Regions from separate parts of the Homo sapiens genome. Here region 1 is linked to region 2. A link means that fine-mapping ties the variant in region 2 to the plasma level of a protein whose gene starts in the linked region. Region 2 holds a variant in brackets. A gene starts in the other region. All regions are shown on one strand. Distances are from middle to middle.

What was found. A credible set is the group of variants that fine-mapping cannot tell apart. PIP is the chance, under the fine-mapping model, that this variant and not a neighbour inherited with it causes the effect. The UK Biobank Pharma Proteomics Project read protein levels with antibody pairs (Olink). The fine-mapping took linkage between variants from a reference panel, not from the people measured, so its PIPs are less certain.
Region 1: EDA2R starts here. The variant in region 2 is the best candidate, but not a certain one, in a credible set for the plasma level of the EDA2R protein (UK Biobank, PIP 0.87).

What each region holds. Positions count from the first base shown.
Region 1 is chrX:66,638,600-66,641,467 of GRCh38, reverse strand. EDA2R (ectodysplasin A2 receptor) reads left to right here and starts at 2,390. Exons shown (of 7, transcript NM_021783.5): 1 at 2,390-2,473. RefSeq lists an enhancer at 2,570-2,868.
Region 2 is chrX:56,078,959-56,081,880 of GRCh38, reverse strand. All of the region lies in intron 1 of LOC124900486 (a long non-coding RNA gene), which reads right to left. It also overlaps a transcript of KLF8 not described here. Among named protein-coding and RNA genes, the nearest start is that of KLF8, 150 kb to the left of the region's middle. The variant A/G (reference allele first, on the strand shown) is at 1,385.

The DNA of each region.
Region 1 (2,868 bases), 11 Mb before region 2:
TCATGAAAAAAATTTGAGCAGTGCCTGGCAAGTGCTTAGTGAGGGCCAGCTAACTGTTATAGTATTATTGGACAAGTTATGGTGGAGGACAGTGGTTTCATATTTGCTGCTTATAATCACTTTCCACAATAGCTTGTGGACTCTGACATATCCCTGGTACCTCTATCTCAAGTTTCCTCCTGTACTTCCAGGCAGAATCACAGAGTACAAGGAGCCTCTTCATCTACAAAATGAGGATGGTAACCTCAACCTCATAGAATGGTTGTAAGGTATAAAGGGACACATATGCATGATTTATAGGTGCTCAGTAAATGTTATTCTTGTCCACCTTCTAAACCTTTGCTACTAAAACTATGGTCTGTGGCCCAGCACCATCAATATCACCTGGAAGCAGTTAGAAAATCAGAGTCTTAGTCCCACACCACAGCTGCTAACTCAGAATCTGTGTTTTAACAAGATCCTTAGGTGATTTGTGTGCACATTAATATGAGAGAAGCACGGCTCTAGCGTTTCAAGGTCATCCAGTCCAACAGTCTCTTCAGGATACAGATGCAGAAAGGAAAACTAAGAGAGAGGAAGAGATTTACATGATGTTACACTTAGTTTTGTCAAGACATCTAAATTCCAAGCTAGGGTTCTTTACACTAAAGTTTCAAAACTGTCTGTAATTCAGCTTCTCTGGGTAGGAAAGGATGGAGAAAAAGAAGAGGTCCTGTTTTCTAGGAAAGGACAGAACAGAATTAGGAGGTACCCAGGGTAGCTATTTTCATTTGAATCTCACAGATGATTTCAGAGGTCCCTAAATTGCATTCATGTATTTATTTATATTTAATAAACACTTCTATACCACTACGTCCCAGAAATCATTCTAAGCTCCTTACGCATATGAACACTATTTTGTATATTAACTCATATAATACCTAAAACAATCCTATGAGTAAGGGATTGTTATTTTCCCCACTTTACAGAAGAGAATCCTGAGCCACAGAGTGGTTAAGTAACTTGCCTTAGGTCACAAAGCTAGTAAGGGGCAGACCTAGGATTCCAATTCTGGCAGTTTTCCCTTCTACTAGGCCTGAGCCCACAGTAGCCTATTCTGGTCTTAACTCTAGCTAGGGGACAGATATGAAGTTCATTTAGGACTTTTTCTACTTCAGCTTAGGGCCTATTCAGCCCTTTCCCACCAAAGGCTTTTCAGCTGCTTTACTGAGACTCCACCCTGAGCTGGCATATAGCCTCTGCCCAGTACAGGAGGGGTCCCTCAGAGACTGATAATGGCTCATTTCTTGGTCCTCTCCCCCATACCTTGGCTCAAGCTTTTCTTTTCCTCTACCCATTAGGCTATTTCCTCTTTGACCTCTTTTAAAAGCTCCTAATCTATTGAAAAGCATTTGCTTTCCTTGTCAGACTCTTTTTTACTCCTTCTTCCTACTGGCCCCCAAACCCTTCCAGTCTGCACCTCATAGTTTGGCCCTTAATTCTCTGTCTCTGTCCGGTCTACTTTATCTTCCCAGCTCTGCAAACTCTTCAAGGTCAGGGACTAGTAACGTTTCGGGATTTATCCACCGCTGCCTCTGAGATCATGGATTAATAAACTCCCAAAGTGTCATTGTTTGAAGTGCCCTTAGAGACTACGTAGCTCAACCCCCTCCTTGTACAGACACTCAGGGGCCCAGAGAAGATGGATGATCAAAGCTGAGTGCCGAATCCAATTTTCCTTTATTTTTAGTGGTCTTTTCCCTGCTTCATGTCTGCTCTCTTCCTCCTGTCACAATCCTATCTACCCTTCTGAATGGAGGAGTATTTTTTTGAGGCAGATGCAGAGCTGGAAAGCGGCTTCTCCATGTGTCTGAAAATTTTGGCTTTTCCAACAATAATTTTCCCTGTCAAACTCCAAGCCTGCTAAGTCATGAATAAACTTTGATGAGCTGAGCTGCATTCAGCTGTGAAAGAGACAACTTGATGCTTTCTCTGGACCCCACTCCCTGGCCCTCTACTCTCTGGCCCCCGCTTCAGTCCCAGGAGATTTGCAGCTCCTGCCATACCAGTGGCTGGGTCACTGTTCTTCAGCCTCACATTGTTCCTCTCAAAGGCAGTTTCTTTTCGTAGCCACGCCTAGGCACTCAAACAGTCCAATAGCTGCTCTAGGAACTTCACGGGGGCGGAAGAGGTAAGCTTACCGTGAAAGGAGGGTTTGGGCTGTTGTTGCTACACGTGGATGTGAAATGAGTCAAGCGGAACTTTGATTACAAGGAATTTCATATACTGTGAGTGTGTATGCAGGCTGGGGGCTGAGGGGCGGGGGCTGAGGGGCGGGGCTGATGGGCGGGTCTGAGGGGCGGGGGCTGAGGGGCGCGGGGTGAAGGGCGGGGGGTGACGGGAGGGGGCTGGGTGAGATGTGTGCTCTGCGCTGAGGTGGATTTGTACCGGAGTCCCATTTGGGAGCAAGAGCCATCTACTCGTCCGTTACCGGGTGAGTGTGGGAACACCCCCTGGTGTGGCAAGGCGGCTGGGACCTGCGGCATCTAGGTGCAGAAGTACAGAATCAGGTCAGGATGATCCTGCTAGGGTACCGCAAAATCAGAACAATTGGGAAGGCGCCCTGTGGCTGGCTGTCAGTCCATCCATTTGTGTCCGGAGAGCGCTTTCTGAGGTATCAGGGATCTGGGCTGACATCTCTAGGATCTTGGCGAGCCATTTCCTGTAGGCTCTTACTGGACCTGCATTGCCTCTGAGAACATGCCTGGACGTGTCCAACAACCTTGAGCATCTAGGGTTGGGAGATAAAGAAGAGAAGGAGGCTGGGTGTTAGTGAAGGCGGGGACAGTGGATCAGACTTGTGGAGCATCCTGAGGAAAGCAGAACTGC
Region 2 (2,922 bases):
AAAATCCTCAGTATCATACTAGTAAATTGAATTCAACAGCATATTAAAAGAATTATACAACAACAAAGAAGTGAGACTTATCTGAGGAACACAAGGGTGTTTCCACATAAGAATTTCAATCAATGTAATACATCACATTAATAGAATCAGGAAAAATTAGTGCATTGAAAACATCTGACAAAATCTAACATACTTTCATAACAAAAAACTACCCAGAAACCTGGAGTAGAACAGAACTTTCTCCACATAATAGAAGGCATTTGTAAAAAATTCATAGCTAAATCATACACAAAAGTGAAAGACAAAAGTTTCCCAATAAAATCAGGAACAAAATAGGGTTGCCCACTTTCACCACTGCTATTGAAAAGTGTACTGAAAGTTTTAGCTGGAGCAATTAGGCAAAATTAAGAAATAAAAGGCATTACAATTGGAAATGAAACACGGAAACTACTTTGTAGAATACATGATCCTTTATATAAACATCGCAAGAGATCCACATAAAAGCTACTAATTTGCCATATACATAAATCAAATCAAACAGAAAGGACATCCACACCAAAAACCCATCTGTACATCACCATCATCAAAGACCAAAAGTAGATAAAACCACAAAGATGGGGAAAAAACAGAACAGAAAAACTGGAAACTCCAAAAAGCAGAGCGCCTCTCCTCCTCCAAAGGAACGCAGTTCCTCACAAGCAACAGAACAAAGATGGATGGAGAATGACTTTGACAAGCTGAGAGAAGGCTTCAGACGATCAAATTACTCTGAGCTAAGGGAGGACATTCAAACCAAAGGCAAAGAAGATGAAAACTTTGAAAAAAATTTAGAAGAATGTATAACTAGAATAACCAATACAGAGAAGTGCTTAAAGGAGCTGATGGAGCTGAAAACCAAGGCTCGAGAACTACGTGAAGAATGCAGAAGCCTCAGGAGCCGATGCAATCAACTGGAAGAAAGGGTATCAGTGATGGAAGATGAAATGAATGAAATGAAGCGAGAAGGGAAGTTTAGAGAAAAAAGAATAAAAATAAATGAGCTAAGCCTCCAAGAAATATGGGACTATGTGAAAAGACCAAATCTACGTCTGACTGGCATACCTGAAAGTGATGGGGAGAATGGAACCAAGTTGGAAAACACTCTGCAGGATATTATCCAGGAGAATTTCCCCAATCTAGCAAGGCAGGCCAACACTCAGATTCAGGAAATACAGAGAATGCCACAAAGATACTCCTCGAGAACAGCAACTCCAAGACACATAATTGTCAGATTCACCGAAGTTGAAATGAAGGAAAAAATGTTAAGGGCAGCCAGAGAGAAAGGTCGGGTTACCCTCAAAGGGAAGCCCATCAGACTAACAGTGGATCTCTCTGCAGAAACCCT[A/G]GAAGCCAGAAGAGAATGGGGGCCAATATTCAACATTCTTAAAGAAAAGAATTTTCAACCCAGAATTTCATATCCAGCCAAACTAAGCTTCAAAAGTGAAGGAGAAATAAAATCCTTTACAGACAAGCAAATGCTGAGAGATTTTGTCACCACCAGGTCTGCCTTGCAAGAGCTCCTGAAGGAAGCACTAAACATGGAAAGGAACAACCGGTACCAGCCACTGCAAAATCATGCCAAAATGTAAAGACCATCGAGACTAGGAAGAAACTGCATCAACTAACGAGCAAAATAACCAACTAACATCATAATGACAGGATCAAATTCACACATAACAATATTAACTTTAAATGGAAATGGACTAAATGCTCCAATTAAAAGACACAGACTGGCAAATTGGATAAAGAGTCAAGACCCATCAGGGTGCTGTATTCAGGAAACCCATCTCACATGCAGAGACACACATAGGCTCAAAATAGAAGGATGGAGGAAGATCTACCAAGCAAATGGAAAACAAAAAAAGGCAGGGGTTGCAATCCTAGTCTCTGATAAAACAGACTTTAAACCAACAAAGATCAAAAGAGACAAAGAAGGCCATCACATAATGGTAAAGAGATCAATTCAACAAGAACAGCTAACTATCCTAAATATATATGCATCCAATACAGGAGCACCGAGATTCATAAAGCAAGTCCTGAGTGACCTACAAAGAGACTTAGACTCCCACACATTAATAATGGGAGACTTTAACACCTCACTGTCAACATTAGACAGATCAACAAGACAGAAAGTCAACAAGGATACCCATACCCAGGAATTGAACTCAGCTCTGCACCAAGTGGACCTAATAGACATCTACAGAACTCTCCACCACAAATCAACAGAATATACATTTTTTTCAGCACCACACCACACCTATTCCAAAATTGACCACATACTGGGAAGTAAAGCTCTCCTCAGCAAATGTAAAAGAACAGAAATTATAACAAACTATCTCTCAGAACACAATGCAATCAAACTAGAACTCAGGATTAAGAATCTCACGCAAAACCACTCAACTACATGGGAACTGAACAACCTGCTCCTGAATGACTACTGGGTACATAACGAAATGAAGGCAGAAATAAAGATGTTCTTTGAAACCAACGAGAACAAAGACACAACATACCAGAATCTCTGGGATGCATTCAAAGCAGTGTGTAGAGGGAAATTTATAGCACTAAATGCCCACAAGAGAAGCAGGGAAGATCCAAAATTGACACCCTAACATCCCAATTAAAACGACTAGACAAGCAAGAGCAAACACATTCAAAAGCTAGCAGAAGGCAAGAAATAACTAAAATCAGAGCAGAACTGAAGGAAATAGAGACACAAAAAACCCTTCAAAAAATTAATGAGTCCAGGAGCTGGTTTTTTGAAAGGATCAACAAAATTGATAGACCGCTAGCAAGACTAATAAAGAAGAAAAGAGAGAAGAATCAAGTAGACGTGATAAAAAATGATAAAGGGGATATCACCATCGATCCCACAGAAATACAAAC